Regions from separate parts of the Homo sapiens genome. Here region 2 is linked to region 1. The links come from fine-mapping of genetic effects on gene expression. A gene starts in region 1. The other region holds a variant in brackets. All regions are shown on one strand. Distances are from middle to middle. Region 1 holds the start of ZMIZ2 (zinc finger MIZ-type containing 2). Region 2 overlaps ZMIZ2 (zinc finger MIZ-type containing 2).

Region 1 (8,324 bases):
TCAAAAACATGATTTCCAACCTGTGGGTGCGTTCTACTTAACTATTACCTACTAGGATGTAACTATTAGCTTGCTAACACAAGCTCCACGACAATGCAGATTTTCATCAGTTTTACTTACTGCCATGTTTCCAGCACTGAGAGTGGTATCTGGCACACAGTAGAAGCTCAACAGAAAATTGTTGAATGAATGAATACAGCTTGTGTGTAATTTTTCAATATCCTAATGTCACAGCAAACATCCTTGTAAATAAATCTTTGAAGTATTTATTTTGTGAGAAACACAGATAATGCTTGTAAGGGAAATGTTTATGTTGATAATGTGAAAAAATAAGAATGCAAAATCATACATATGCCATATTCTCCACAACATCAAGATATGCAAAGAGAACCATCTGGGAAAAAAACAGAGCAAACAATTGACTGGAATTATCTCTGAACAGTTTTAAGGTATTTTGAACATTTCTCTGTATTTTCCACAATGAGAATATACCGCTTGTATGCAAAGGAGCAGCAGCACCTTTCTCTTTTTTTTTTTTTTTTGAGATGGAGTCTCGCTCTGTCGCCCAGGCTGGAGTGCAGTGGCGTGATCTTCGCTGACTGCAAGCTCCACCTCCTGGGTTCACGCCATTCTCCTGCCTCAGCCTCCCAGGTAGCTGTGGCTACAGGGCCCGCCACCATGCCTGGCTAATGTTTTGTATTTTTAGTAGAGACAGGGTTTCACCATGTTAGCCAGGATGGTCTCGATCTCCTGACCTCGTGATCCGCCCACCTCGGCCTCCCAAAGTGCTGGGATTACAGGCGTGAGCCACTGCGCCCGGCCTACCTTTTTCTTTTTAAAGTTAGTTTTGCAAGTCAAGAGTCATAGTAACTGGGGGTACCCAAACTGGTTAAAAACCAAATTCAGGTTAAGGCCACACCAACTGTAGGAGACTGTGGACTCGCAGGAGCCCCTGGACGCTGGGCTAGGCTGATTACATTTAGGATATCAGGTTCCCTTTCTGGTGTCACATTTTAAAAGCGATATTGTCTAACTGGTGCCTGTCTAAAGGAGAGTGGCCAGTTGGTACAGGATCTGAAAATTGTGTTACTGTTAACACTTAAGGAACTGGGAGCATTATTCCTCCAACAGAAGACTGGGGGATTGAGAAGTTGCTTTTAATATTTGAAGAGCTGTCAAATAACAAAGTGATGATTCTTATTTTATGCACTTGTAGAGGAAAAGCTTCAATAAGGCAGTTTTTTTATTCTAGTAAATGAGGAAGACTTTTTTTTTTTTTTTTGAGACAGAATCTCACTCTGTCGTCCAGGCTGGAGTGCAGTGGTGTGATCTCGGCTCACTGCAACCTCCACCTCCCGGGTTCAGCAATTCTCCTGCCTCAGCCTCCCGAGTAGCTGGGACTACAGGTACACACCACCATGCCCGGCTAATTTTTGTACTTTTAGTAGAGACAGGGTTTCACCATGTTGGCCAGGCTGGTCTCGAACTCCTGACCTCACGTGATCTGCCTGCCTCGGCCTCCCAAAGTGCTGGGATTACAGGCGTGAGCCACCGCGCCAGGCAACTTTTTTTTTTGGGGGGGTGATGGTGGGGGGATAGAGTCTCGCTCTGTCACCCACGGTGGAGTGCAGTGGTGCGATCTCAGCTCACTGCAACCTCTGCCTCTCGGGTTCAAGCGATTCTCCTGCCTCCGCCTCCCGAATAGCTGGGAATACAGGTGCATGCCACCACACCTGGCTAATTTTTGTATTTTTAGTAGAGTAGGGTTTCACGCCACCATGCCTGGCTAATTTTTGTATTTTTTAGTAGAGACAGGGTTTCACCATGTTGGCCAGGCTGGTCTCGAACTCCTGATCTCAGGTGATCCACCCATCTTGGCCTCCAAAAGTGCTAGGATTACAGGCGTGAGCCACTGTGCCCGGCCTCAAGGAAGACTTTCTTAACAATTCATCATATAGTAGAAAATGAAAACATTCCCTAGAAAGGAGTGGACACCAGGTGGCCTTTCCCAGGGGAGCAGGGCAGGAATTATTGAAGCAGTTAGGAGGTGAGAGAGATGCCTGCCCTGGGGGCACCTGGGATGCTTGGCGTGGCCACTTCCAGCATCCTCCACAAACCTGCCTGCAACTCCCCCATACATGCAGCCTCTTCCGAGACAGAGGAATGGTCAGGGTCCCCTGGTGCCTGCCTCCCCCTTCATTTGGGTCTCTTCTTCAGGGCCAGCTCCACAGAGAATCCGTCCCTCATACCTCATCACTCCCTCCCCATTCTCTGGCCCTGATTTAGTTTTCTTCCTAACACTCTTTCTGACAGACACACTGTTACCTGTTAACTCATTTCCTTCTGTTTGTCCCCTCTAACATGCTTGCTGTATGGATGGAGGGGCCTTATTCTCCTGGTTCCTGGGGACAGACCAGTGTTCACAGACCCCAGACCAGGGACTGTTGTACAGCAGGCCTGCCATATTTGTTCAATGAACGAATGATTCCCAAAAGAAATAGAGCACAGAGTTCAGAGGCGGCCTTCAGGGAAGAAATTTCAACAATGTCAAAAATTAATTGTGGAGTATCCATTGATAGATGAATGGATAACTTAAATGTGGAATATGCATACAATGGAATATTATTCAGCCATAAGAAAGAAGGGGCTGGGCGCCGTGGCTCACGCCTGTAATCCCAACACTTTGGGAGGCCCAGGCAGGCGGATCACGAGGTCAGGAGATCGATTCCATCCTGGCCAACATGATGAACCCCGTCTCTACTAAAACACACACACAAAAAAATTAGCCAGGCGTGGTGGCGTGCCCCTGTAGTCTCAGCTACTCAGGAGGCTGAGGCAGGGGAATCGCTTGAACCTGGGAGGTGGAGGTTGCAGTGAGCCGAGATTGCACCACTGCACTCCAGCCTGGCGACAGAGTGAGACTCCGTCAAAAAAAAGAAGGGAAGGGAAGGGGAGGGAAGAAGGAAGGAAAGAAGGAAGGAAAGAAAGAAAGAAAGAAAGAGAGAGAGAAAGGAAAGAAAGAAAGAAAGAAAGAAAGAAAGAAAGAAAGAAAGAAAGAAAGAAATTCTGACACATGCCACAACATGGATGGAAGTGAGGACACTGTGCTAACTAAAGTAAGACTGTCACAAAAAGACATATAATGTATGATTCCACTTATACGATGTCCTTAGAGTAGTCTAATTTAGAGACGAATAGTGAATGCCAAAGGCTAGGAGGAGGAAAGAATGGGGAGCTAGTGTTTACTGGGTATGGAGTTTCCATTTGAGAAGATGAAAAAGTCCTGGAGACGGTTGGTGGTTGCACAAGAATGTGAATGTACTTGGTGCCACAGAACTACACTTGGAAACAGTTAAGATGGTAAGTTTTACGTTATGTGTATTTTACCACAATTAAGAAAAATTAATTATGGGTAGTTGAGAGAATGTGGTCTTCCTCAACTTACGGTAGGAAAAGTCAAGAATAACTTAAAGGCTGATAATAGCATTTCAAAGATCGAAACTGATCAGAGAGGCTATTCCATCAGGCTAGACTAGCTCAATAGTGACTTTTTCCAGAAGGAGAACCACTGGGAAGAGAGAACTGAGCAGTGAGGACAGCGAACTTGTTAAGTTTAGTTTTCTGCTTTAACGAGGGGCTTCCGGAGTCCTTTAATAAGATCCCCTCCCAAAAGTGGCACCCTGGGTCTCTCTGTCTCCCAGTCGTGTCCCCGCCCGCCGGGCCAGAGCAATGGACTCCCAGGAAGCAGGGGGGGCGCGGGCGGGGCGCGGGCGGGGCGGGTGGGGGAAGGGCAAGGACTCACTCTTCCTTTCCTCCTCCGCCGGGGCCCGCCCCGAGCCCTGGCCCCACCCCGGCTCTCTGGATCCGCCTCCTCCTCCCGACCCCGCCCCGGCACCTTGGCCCCGCCTTCCACTCGGCCCCGCCCCGGCGTCCTGGCCCCGCCTCCGCCGCCCGGCCCCGCCCCGCTCCCGGCGGACTGCGAGCAGGAAGAGCGCAGTGGCTCTGCCGACGCCGCGTTCAGAAAGGTGTGGAGGGGGCTGGGGGCGCAGGTCGCGATCAGGCTGCGTCTCCTGCCCGCCCAGCCACCTGCGGCCCTGGCCCCACCCTGCCGCTTTGGGCCGCTCGGGCTCGCGGCCGCCCCCGCCCCGAGCGCCGGCTCGGGGCTCTGCTGCTCTGGCCTGGGAGGCGGGGCCGGCTGCGCGGCGTCATGCATATGCATGAGCGGCGCGGCGGCGGCTCCATTGTGCCCTCGGAGCGGGCGGCGGCGCGATGGCGCGGGTGGCGGCGGCCCCGGGGCGGCGGGCGGCGCGGAGGGCGGGCTGAGCGCATGGAGCGGCGCGGGCCGGGGGCCGCCACGGCGAGGGGCCGGGCCAGGCCGGGCGGAGGTGAGCGGGGTCCTGGGGGTGGCCCCTGGCAACGCCGCCAGCAGGCAGGTGTGGGCCGGCGGGGGCAGGCAGGTGCGGCAGGTGCGGGCCGGCAGGTGCGGGCGGGCAGGCAGGTGTAGCTGGTCGCCCGGGGCGCCCCGGTTCCGCTGCGGCGCCACGGTAGGGTTCACAGCTGGGCTGGGGCTAGAGGCTCTGCCGCCCACCTGCCGGCACCTGCCACGCGTGCGTCGTGGTCTTGGGCAGGCTCGGCCCCGTGGGCGTCAGGGTCATCCAGCCCTCCCCTGAGTCTTTGTTGGAGGCTGGCCGAGGGGTGTAAGCGGCGCTCGGGGTTCTCCTGAGCGATGAAGGCTGGCCGGGCCTTCGCTCCAACCTGATCGTTCCTAGCTTTGGGGCCAGGCAGTCTCACCTACATGGTACGCCCCTCCGCTCCTACTTACGTGCCCACCAGCACGGCGATGTGGGGGCCGTCTGAGGCCGTCACCTGCTCGCGGAGGAGCTGTTCCGCTCCTGGGCTGAACGACGCTGAGCGGCCAGCCCCCAGCTGCCAGTTTTGATGGGGACACCCCTTTCCAAACTGGACATACTGAAGCTCAGGCGTGAGGATGCCCTGCTCCCCTGAGGTGCCTTGTCTTCCCTAGTGCCAGGTGTCCTTCACCGCGGCACCCCCACCCGGTGCCTTGTTTACCCCTCCACCTACCGTGTCTCTCCTCCCATTCCCTGGACCCTCTGCCCTGCAGTGTTCTGCCTCTCCTTCTCCCTAGGGTACCCTCTTTCCAGTATTACAGAACATCCATGGTGGTGTCTTTAATTTGTGTCATCGCAGATTTCACAGGGACACACACGGAACATGTGACTTGGTCTGAGACCGTGGTGATTACGGATAGGATGGACACAGACTCACCACCAAGTTCTGGCAAGCTAGAACCAGAGGGCATCCCTTGATGCTTAGTGTGGAAACAGGAGAAGTGAAGGAATCTTAACTTCCAGAGGTACTGACCTCTAGCCCTTGTCATGCCCAGGGGATAGTTACAAGCTGGAAGTGTAAATGAAGAGAACAAGCAGGTGACAGTTGCCGGTTGTAGATTTCTGAAGGACAGGCCTAAGATGTTTGGGGAGCATCCTGATTATTGGGATTGAGCTCCCAAGGGCTGATGACATGAAGGTGGTCATGTGTCCTCAGTCCTAGGATGCTACCAGATATCCATCTTACACATTGTAAACTGATGCCAGGTTAAGGTTGTCCCTTCAGCTGTTCACTGAAATGTCTCATGCCTGGGCCATTGCTTATTCCTGGACTTTTTGATGAACTCTGCATCCTGACTTAGCCCCACGCTTAGACATTTTAGTACTGTGGCCTTACAGGTAGAGGGGGCAGGACTTTCAGCTACCTGTATATGTGAGTACCCCACTTTTTGCTACCAAGGACCCCGCTCCTGCAACATTCCACAGCCATCATTTCTTCAATACCCTTTGACTCCATTGTCACCTGGGTTGGATCCTGACCCTGCAATCTTGGAGACAGTGAGTCCTGATGTGTGACCTATTGAGAAGCGTTGCCTGCCACAGGGCCCACTTGCTGGTCCTGCTCCTAGCTGACTAGGCAGGCAGAGAGGTGGCATGGAACAAGGCTCAGGAGGTCAACCAGGAGACTTGGGGGTGCAGCTACTCTGGGACATTTGGGGAAGAGAGGTCTGGGGTAGTGAGTTCTGTAACTCTGTCTAGAGGAAGATGTGATCTGACCCCCGAGAAAGCCTTGTGGCCCTCTAGACTGACCTTGTCCATCTCTCAAGGGGTCCTAGCTTCCAGCTGGAGTTAGTTTACAAGGAAAGCGCCAGGCACTAAGACCCTTGGTGGGCATGGGCCTTGCATGATCTGGGATCCAGATTCCAGGCTCCAGGCTTGTTCCCAACCCAGACTCAAAGCCAGGAGATGAGAAGAGGATCTGCACACACACAACGCAGAACACTATCCTATCATCAGGGGCACAGGGTCAAGGATACCAGACCTGGAGACTGGAAGTCTTTTCAGAGAGACTGTCCTCAGAGAGGAGACCAGAGGCATGAGTTCGGGTCGGCAGGAAATCCCCCTGTGCAGTGAAGAGTAAGCTCAGAGGGAACTGGAAATCTTTGTGGTCTCTGTCCACAGCAGAGAACCATCAGGGGTGGAATTCCCCAGGCTCATGTGACATAGGAGCCTGCTGTGGGCTCCTCCCCTCCTTGTACCTGCCCTGTGCTCCTTCTCCCCAGCTCACTGCATTTCCTAGATCTGAGGTTCTCAAACTACAGTTCCTGGACCAGCAGCAGCAGTAGCTGCAAACTTGTTAGAAATTCTGGGCTTAGGCCCCAGCCCATCCTACTGACTTCAGGTGGGGCTGGGCAGCCTGTCATCACCAGCTGCGAGCTGGTTTTGATGTGCTGCAGTTGGGGAGCTGCTGCCCTAGGTGACCTAAAATGAGGCAGTGCTGCACAGAGTGCTGCCTGCACTTTGAGGCCTTTGACCACGGGCGGGGGAGGGGGCACATCTGCTTGCCTGCCAGATTCCCTCTCTGTTCTTGGGACAGCAAAGTGGCCAGCCAACCCAACCAGCTTTCTAGTGGGGAAAGATTGTCACAGCAGTTCTGCGGAGACAGAAGGCTGGTGGTAGCAGTTGTATTGTAATTAAACTTTTTATTTTGAAATTATTGGCTGGACACAGTGGTGCTCACCTCTAATCCCAGCACTTTGGGAGGCCGAGGTGGGTGGATCACTTGAGGTCAAGAGTTCAAGACCAGCCTGGCCAACATGGCGAAACTTCATCTCCACTAAAAATACAAAAATTAGCCAGGCATGGACTATGGTGGTGTACACCTGTAGTCCAGTTACTCAGGAGGCTGAGGCAGGAGAATCGCTTGAACCTGGGAGGTGGAGGTTGCAGTGAGCCTAGATCGTGCCACTGCACTCCAGCCTCGGTGAAAGAGCAAGATTCCATCTCAAAAAGAAAAAAAAAAAATTAAAGATTCATGTGCATTATAAGAAATGACACAGAGAGATTTATTCTGTCCTTTACCCAGTTTGCCCCAATGGTAACATCTTGGAAAACTAGTACAACATTGCACCAGGACACTACACTGATACAGTAAAGAGGTTACAGCCTGTTGCCTTCTATTTTTTTTTTTTGAGATGGAGTTTCACTCTTGCTGCCCAGGCTGGAGTGCAATGGTGCGATCGGCTCACTGCAACCTCCACCTCCTGGGTTCAAATGATTCTCCTGCCTCAGCCTCCTGAGTAGCTGGGATTACAGGCGCCCACCACTACGCCCGGTTAGTTTTTGCCCAGCTAATTCTTATGTTTTTAGTAGAGTTGGGGTTTCACCATGTTGGCCAGGCTGGTCTCGAACTCCTGACCTCAAATGATCTGCCCACTTCAGCCTCCCAAAGTGCTGGGATTACAGGCGTGAGCCACCGTGCCCAGCCTGTTGCCTTCTTATATTCACGCCCACCTTCCTCCTGCCAAAATTACAGAAATGGAGAAGAGATTAGTACCTTTCTCTTTACCCCCACATTTAACCCCTGGCAATCACCAATCTGTTCTCCATTTCCCTAATTTTGGTGTGTCAAGAATGCTAAATAAAGGAATCGTACACCGTGTAGCCTCTTGGGATTGGCTTTTTCCACCGAGCATTAATTCTCTGGAGATTCATCCAGGTTGTTGCATATATCAGTAGTTCATTCCTTTATATTGCATCCGGGCTATGGATGTACCACCGTTGATTTAACTCTTCATCCATTGAAGGACATCTGGGCTGTTTCCATTCCATAGCTCTTGCAAATAAAGCAGTTATAAACATTTGTGTACAGGTTTTTATGTGAACATAAGTTTTCATTTCTCTGAGATAAATGCGTACAAGTGCAGTTGCTGGGTCATAGTAGGGTAGCTGCTTGCTTAGTTCCATATGATACGG
Region 2 (8,324 bases), 20 kb after region 1:
CTGAGCTGTGTCCCTTTTTTTCCCCACAGCAAGACAGCTTTGCTGGAGGGCCTGGAGGTGGACCAGTACATGCTGGGCATCCTGATTTACATTCAGAAGTAAGCATCCTCTTCCTGTGATCCCTGCATCTGTGGCCACTGGAGGGCAGCCCCAGGACATGTCGGGGGATGTCCCTTGCCAAGTGCAGCCTTCCAGCCTTTTTCCGGCATGGAGCAGGCTGGATTCCAGGCCAGAGACAGCGTGTGTGTCCTACCTGAGTGTTGGTGCTGGGCCCAGCGTCCTGCTCGATGTGGAAGGTGCTGGGTGGAAGCAAGCATTTGAGTGGGGGAACCTGCCTGGAAACAGCCCAGGGCTGGGAGGGGCAGTGGGTGCCGGGCCAGCAGCAGGCCAGGAGGTAACCATTCCCCACCTGTCCCTGCCCAGCTCTGACTATGAGGAGATCACCATCGACCCCACGTGCAGCTGGAAGCCAGTGCCCGTGAAGCCTGACATGCACATCAAGGAGGAGCCGGATGGGCCAGCACTGAAGCGCTGCCGCACCGTGAGCCCCGCCCACGTGCTCATGCCCAGCGTGATGGAGATGATCGCCGCCCTGGGCCCCGGCGCTGCCCCCTTTGCCCCCCTGCAGCCCCCCTCAGTCCCTGCCCCCAGCGACTACCCTGGCCAGGGTAAGTACAGCAGGCTAGCCTTGAACCTCAGATGACCCTGGGCATATGGCTCCTCTCCCCAGATCAGTCTCCTCACCTGCAAGAATGTGGCTATGCAGGTCACACACCTAGGTTATCAGTGTTGCCACACAAAACATGCCGCGGGGCACCTCCAGCCCCTCCCATCTCAGGGACGTGGCGGTGAAGGCACAGTCTCAGCTATGGTCCCAGGAAACAGACAGTGGGGCCTCCACCCTTCCTTCCCCGTTTGGATTAAGGGGCTCCTGGCTGGAACACCTCACAGGACTGGCCCCATCTGGGGCCCCCCTCTGGGACCCACCTCACACGCGTGGTGCGTTTGTTTGTGGCTGCTCCCATTCCTATAACCTCCGAGACCTTCACTCCTAGGAATGTCCCAAGGCCAATTCCCTTGGCAGCAATGAGAAGAAATGCCCTTTTCCAAATAGCGACTTCTGCAAAACCCGCTGTTGTTTGTGGGTGAGCACTGCAAGTCCCACCCATGCCACAGCCAGCCTCCCTCCTGGCTCCTCTGCCAGCGGTGGCCTTCCCCAGCCCTCACCCAGGCCCCGACTCTCCTCTCACAGGTTCCAGCTTCCTGGGGCCTGGAACTTTCCCTGAGTCCTTCCCACCCACCACGCCCAGCACCCCAACCCTTGCTGAGTTCACCCCGGGACCACCCCCCATCTCCTACCAGTCTGACATTCCCAGCAGCCTCCTGACTTCAGAGAAGTCTACCGCCTGCCTCCCAAGCCAGGTCAGTGCCAAGCCGAGAGGCCAAGGGGCCCTGTCTCCCCAGGGGAGCCCCTGAGCTGTTTTAACAAATTCTTCTCTCTGTCTTCAGATGGCACCAGCAGGTCACCTGGACCCCACTCACAATCCTGGGACACCAGGACTACACACCTCCAACCTTGGGGCCCCTCCAGGTCCCCAGCTGCACCATTCAAACCCTCCCCCAGCGTCCCGGCAGTCCTTGGGCCAAGCGAGCTTAGGACCTACGGGTGAACTGGCCTTCAGTCCTGCCACAGGCGTGATGGGGCCCCCCAGCATGTCTGGAGCCGGGGAGGCCCCAGAACCAGCTCTGGACGTGAGTACCAGGCCCCATGCGGGGGAGTGCGTGGGAGCCAGGGCTAGAGGTGGTGTGTCTGTTCCAGGTGCGTTCTGGAAGGGAAGACAGTGACCCCTCAGAGAGCCGGTCAGATAAGGTCAACTAAATGCAGCTTTTGTTCATGAATTAGATACCTGGAGTAGCTGCGGGTGGGATGCGATGTACCACATTTGTGTTCATGAGGGGCCTGGATGCCGTACGGGCGGACGCAGAGTCTCAGAGGAGACTGCACTGGAAGCTGACAGCACGGTCCTTAGAGTCAAATTTCGTCTGTCCATTTGCTCAGTAGCCCTGGGTCTTGACTCACAGGTGGAATGGGAGTGCAAACTCAGTACATGAAGGACAGAACTGACTGTCCCTGGACCATAATAGAAACTCATTCTAGAAGTTCAACATGAAACTCATTCTAGAAGTTCAACATGAAAAAGTTAGGAAGAACAGCTCCAAGCAGAAAATCCTAGGGGCATGGAATTCCACCACCAGCATTCACCTTGGGGCATCACGGTGGGGATCCCCACGCAGGCTGATGCACAGAGGGAGTGTGGAGTGGCTGCACTCCCTCACATCCCGTTTCCTGGTGGTATTGAACAGCATGTTGCCAGCTGTTCTGGCCCCAGAGCAACCTTGCAGGGAGGTCCCAGGGGGTGGCGTGTGCCTCTTTGAGCACATGCAGGCCTATGGTGGGGCCCCGCACCCGGCCTGTGTGTGAGGAGGGGCTGCTCAGCATCCCCACTGTGCCTGGAGACAGGGCCGGGATGTGGTGACAGGATGGTCACTCAGGTGTGGCCAGTCAGTGACCAAAGCTGCTAACAGAGTTCACTTTGTCCTCAGCTGCTCCCGGAACTGACCAACCCTGATGAGCTACTGTCCTACTTGGGCCCACCCGACCTCCCTACGAACAACAATGACGACCTGCTTTCTCTGTTTGAGAACAACTGATCCTGTGTTTACCCCAAGCCCGGCGGGGACACGCTCACAGATGTCACCACAGCCCTGCCCTTCATGCCCAGCCCCATGGGACACCCGGTGGTCTTTCCCAAACCTCCCCCAAAACACACCTGGAGCCAGAGCCTTCTGCCGCCAGCCCTGCCCCTGAATTGGAAGCAGCCCTGTGCTCGATGGGAGGGGCTCCCAGGCCGGCAGCCCTTGCCACCTCCCTCTGCCAAGCCTGCTGCTGCAGAACGGTTTTTGCTGAGGTGCCCCTGCCCAGCCCTGTCCAGCCTTGTCCACACACACATCTCACGCCCCTGGTCTCACAGCCTCACACCTTGTCCTTCCACCCCTGCCTGCCCCCACCCAGCCTGCTTCTTGTCCAGCATTGATCCTTCTGTTTCAACAACTCCTCCACTGGGCAGAGCTGGGCATCTGGCAGGGCTGGCTCTGTCCCCTGGGCCTTTGGCTCCAGTGGCCCCTGTGCCCAGCAGTCCAGCTCTTGGAACCTCGCTGAATGGCAGCCTCTTGGGGGCCTGGAGCTCTGGCAGCCCAGCCGTGTGTGGTGTCAGGTTCCTCTCCCCACCCCAGCTTCAAGCAGAGGCCTCGGGGTGGGGGAGCTACAAAGCACAACAATGTACATAGTGTAGAAACACTAACAGCTGGGAGAGGGGAGCCAGCTGTCCAGCCAGCATGTTCCTGTTGTACAGCCCGGTCTCCCTGCGCGCTCTGCTCCTTCCCATGTGCAGACAGATCAGGGAGGAACCTCCAATGGGTGGGGGACAGTGAGCTTCGGCCTGGCCGAGGTGGGTGGGTGGGCTCTCAGATTCAGCTCTGTGTAAAGATTCTCTAGCGGGCTGCGCTCCCAAGTTCCCCTTCTCTGTGAAAGTGAAGAATTAGTACAGCTGTGTTTTTTAAAGCCACCTCTCTGTCTCCACCCCATGGGCCCACACCCAGGTGGGGGAGGAGGAAGCCACTGCATCTGTTGGCTCAGGGCCCCAGCCTGTGCGAGCAGGGCGCCTGGGCTGTTGTGTCTCCTGTCTGTGCCGATCTCTATTAAAGGACTCCCTCTTGGTGGGCCTGGCCGAGTCCCTCCTTTGTGCTCCCAGGGACTATTTTCTCCTCGTAAGCCAGCGACCTGCCTAAAGCTTGGGCTGTGCCTGCAAAGCTTGTGCAGGACCTGGGGGCCAGGTCGACCTTCAAGTGGCTTTTGGGGCCCCAGGTTGAGCTCTGGATGTTTCAAGCCAAGGCTCGGCTATTCCCGCCCCATAGTAAATTTCCTTTTCCCTGGAATTTTCCAAGTTGGCTTCAGCTGAAGAGCTGTTTTGTGAAGCATCCCAGGCTTGCCCAGGAGAGACATTTGCCACTATGTCACCTTATCTGGGCTTGCCCTGGGGCACTGAGACAGTTGTTTGGCAGCCCCAGCCCAGCCAGGGGCTCATCCTTCTCAGCTCTTGTCCCTGGGAGGCCTCTGCTTGTCACTTCCCAGAGATTGCAGAGGTGTGTCCTGCCTACCATCTGCCTGTCCAGCTTGGTGGGGGTCCGGGTCACCATTTCCTCCAGTCCTGGGCCCCATCCTTGAGGGCCTTCCCAGCCAGCCAGCAGGAGAGGCAAGAACTGGGGGAACACAGGAACCTAGGGGAGGAGGGGAGCGCTGGGCATCCTCAGGCTGGCGGCCAAGGCCTGCCCCTGGAGGCACTAGAGGAGGGCATCTGTCTGTGGGAGCCCAGAGGCTGCAGGGAGGAGGAGGAGGGAGGTATCTGGTGTGAGCGTTGCCCCTGCGACATTTGGGACCACACAGGTGGGCTTCCTTATTCCCTGACAAAGCCTCTGTTTCCAGCTCTTCCGCCCTCTCTGGATGAGGGAACAGAAGTGGAGGAAACAAAAGAAGCAGCAGCACGCACAGTCCTGTCGCTGGGTGCGGAGACAGCCTGGCAAAGTCCCACTCAGCCATGGCCTGATGCAGGCCCCAGGCCCTCCTTTCTTGGGTGTCAAATGACTGTGTCCTGGACATCTGATGCACCACCTGCCCTGCCTGTTGCAAACGTGATGCTCCCGGATGGAGTGGAGAAACTAGGAGACTGGGACAAGCAAAAGGCTGCAAACAACCCAGAAGCCCATCCTCAGAAGACTGGAGAAATGATTGAGGAATGCATGGGCACCGTGGCCCTGTGCTCCATCACAAACACCTCTCAGAAACAACGTGGGATGAAAAAGCAAGACAGTTCATACAGTATGATGCCATTTTTATAAAGCTCAAAACCAAATATGTGTGGAATTCATACCCAGGTGCTAAAGTCATCAGGGAGGGC[A/G]GGGAGTCAGTACAACACAGTGCTCACCCGTGGGGAGGGGACGGAGCTGTGCTTAGGGAAGAGCAGAGATGCTGGAGGTTTTGAACCTCAGGGTCAGTGGTGGCTTCGTGGGTTTCACTTTGTCGTACTTTCTGTTTCACACATTTTCTTGTGAATGTGCCAAGTATTACATAAAAACCAAAAGGCTGACCAGACTTAACAGTGCTCCACCCAATAGCAGCAGAACACACGTTTCTAAGTGCACAGGGAACGTTCTCCAGGACAGACCACACGTTAGTGCACAAAGCAAGTCTCAGTAAATTAGAGATCGGAATCCTGCAAACCACCTTCTCCAATCACAATGGAATAAAACCAGAAATCCATACCAGAAGGAAAATGAAAATTCACACATACATAGAAATTGAACACACTTTTTAACAGCCAAAGGGTCAAAGGAGAAATCACGAGAAAAATTAGGAAATAGAGATGGATGAAAACAACATACCAGAACTTAAGGAATGCGGCAAAAACTGCTCTGAGGGAAATTTATAGCTGCAAATGCCAACATTTAAAAAGATGCGACATCTTGGCTGGGTGTGGTGGCTCACGCCTGTAATCGCGGCACTTTGGGAGGCCGAGGCAGGCAGATCACCTGAGGTCAGAAGTTCGAGACCAACCTGGCCAAAGTGGTGAAACCCTGTCTCTACTAAAAACACAAAAATTAGCCAGGCGTGGTGGCTCACACCTGTAATCCCAGCTATTCACGAGGCTGAGGCAGGAAAATCACTTGAACCCAGGAGGCAGAGGTTGCAGTGAGCTGAGATCATGCCATTGCACTCCAGCTTGGGTGACAGAGTGAGACTCTGTCTCAAAACAACAACAAAAAAATTCCTAGAAAGATACAAATGACCAAAATTGTCCCAGGAAAAATAGAAAATCTGAACAGGGCCAGGTGCAGTGGCTCACACCTGTGATCCCAGCACTTGGGGAGAACTAGTTAGGAGGATGGCCTGAGGCCAGGAGTTCGAGACCAGCCTGGGCAACAGAGACCCTGCCTCGACAAAATCTTTAGAAATCAACCAGGTGTCATGGCACGTGCCTGTAGCCCCAGCTACTTGGGAGGCTGAAGCAGGAGGATAGCTAGAGCCCAGGAGTTCAAAGCTGCAACGACCTATGACAGCACCACTGCACTCCAGCCAGGAATGAGGCAGAGACAGAGACCTGACCTCAAAAAAAGAAGAAAAAGGAAAAAATCTGAACCAACCTAAAACACATAGGTAGAACCAGTCATCAAAAGCTTCCCAACAAAAGAAAAGCCCAGGACCAGATGGTGAATTCTACCAAATGCTAAAGAATGGACATAAATCCCCAAATTCTCCCAAACATTGTGGAGGAGAAAACACTTCCTAATTCCCCGTATTCATGTGAGGGGCCAGCTTCCCTCCCATTCTGCCCCAGCTTCCTCCAGTGGCCTTCCCCAGCAGGCAGTGGCCCCCACTTCTGACCCCTGTAACTCTACCCACTGTGGGTTTCCTCCTTGCCACCCTTCCAGCCTTCCAGGCTTTGGGGGCCATTGAGACAGCCCATCCTGCCTGCCCTGAGTGGGAGGGCAAGACATGACTGGCTCAGGATGGCCTGTCACCCAAGTTGCCTCAAAGAAGCCAGGGACATCAGTGCAGTCGGATGCACAGTGCAGTAGGTTTTGGTAAGTGCACACGCGTGTGTACCTGCCCTTCCAAACCTCACAGGAGAGACCAACCCACACCCCACCCCAGGTCATCACTGTTCTGGCCCCTGTCACCAGAGATTAATTTTGCCCTTTCTGAAACTTTATGTCAGTGAATATTAGAGTCTGTGTCTTGTTGTTAACTGATCCTTAAAGCGTCTGTGTTTATTTTCTTTTTTTTTTTTTTTAAGACGGAGTCTTGCTCTGTCGCCCAGGCTGGAGTGCAGTGGCATGATCTCAGCTCACTGCAACTTCCGCCTCCCGGGTTCAAGTGATTCTCCTGCTCAGCCTCCTGAGCAGCTGGGATTACAGGTGGCGCGCCATCACGCCTGGCTAATTCTTGTAATTTTAGTAGAGATGGGGTTTCACCATGTTGGTTAGGCTGGTCTCGAACTCCTGACCTTGTGATCTGCCTGCCTCGGCCTCCCAAAGTGCTGGGATTATAGGCTTGAGCCACTGTGCCTTTTTATTTTCATTTAACTGTATATTGTTCTTGTTCATTCTCTCAGTTACCACTTAGAAGGGAGGATTAATGGGTACCCTTCCCCAGCATCCTATACCCCAGCTCTTCTCTGACCAAGTCTTGAACCCTGTCATGGTACATTAGCTAGGACTCAATAGGTTGCAAGTGACGGTGACCAATTCAAACCAGTTAAGGAAGGAAGGGGCTCAAAATAGCAGTCCTGAAAGGGCCCTGGGGCAGCTGGACATGGGTAGGCATCCTTCCTTGGCCTCTGTGTGCAAGCTTCACCCTCAACCAGCTGCTTCTGTGAACTTGAGATCCAAGCTTCGGAGCCTCACTTCTCATTGATTCACCCTAGAAAAGAGGTGATGATCACTCTCCTTCTGGTTCCAAGTTTAAAATCCCAGGGATGGGATCTGGTTGACTCAACCAGGTAGGGACCCACCCACACAGCTAGAGTGGGGTCAGGAGCACTGCCCGAAAGAAGGGAAGCAGTTATCACAAGAGGGAGTACAGAGGGCCTCCCATTGCCTTGGGATGAAGTCCTTGCCTGCTCCCAACAGTCTCCACATTACCTCGTTCCTGCCCGTCTACCTTCTGGGTCAGGCTTCAGCTAAGACGCCATTCCTGGGAGAACCCTCTGCCTCCAGGATAAGTCAGGGCCTCCTCCTGAAGCCTTGATTCACTCTGTGGAATGCCTTTCACAGTTCCCATCGTAGCTGATCAGTTAAACCGTGGTGTGATTGTTCTTCCCACTTTTTTTTTTTTATTTTTTAGAGATGGGGGGGTGTCACTCTGTCAGGTGGAGTGCAGTGGTGCAATCACAGCTCACTGCAGCGTTGACCTCCAGGGCATAAGCACTCCTCTCATCTCAGCCTCCCAGGTGGCTGGGGCCACAGGCTTACACCACCACGCCTGGCTAATTTTTTTTTTTTAAGCAGAGTCTCACTCTGTCCTCCAGGTGGGAGTGCAGTGACGCGATCTCGGCTCACTGCAACCTTCGCCTCCTGGATTCAAGCGAATCAGCCTCCTGAGTACTGGGATTACAGTACTCGGCCTCCTGAGTACTGGGATTACAGTACTCGGCCTCCTGAGTACTGGGATTACAGGCGTGTGCCACCAAGCCCTGCTAATTTTTGTA

What was found.
Region 2: its variant is fine-mapped to the expression of ZMIZ2 in whole blood (TOPMed, PIP above 0.99).

Annotation. Positions count from the first base shown.
Region 1 is chr7:44,744,607-44,752,930 of GRCh38, forward strand. It overlaps ZMIZ2 (zinc finger MIZ-type containing 2), which reads left to right and starts at 4,241. Exons shown (of 19, transcript NM_031449.4): 1 at 4,241-4,385. RefSeq lists silencers at 3,736-4,265, 4,376-4,485, 4,496-4,545 and an enhancer at 6,326-6,795.
Region 2 is chr7:44,764,912-44,773,235 of GRCh38, forward strand. ZMIZ2 (zinc finger MIZ-type containing 2) reads left to right here. Exons shown (of 19, transcript NM_031449.4): 15 at 30-98; 16 at 424-668; 17 at 1,253-1,422; 18 at 1,510-1,752; 19 at 2,605-4,970. The coding sequence ends at 2,712. Among named protein-coding and RNA genes, the nearest start is that of ZMIZ2, 20 kb to the left of the region's middle. RefSeq lists enhancers at 3,073-3,599, 3,434-3,573. The variant A/G (reference allele first, on the strand shown) is at 5,016.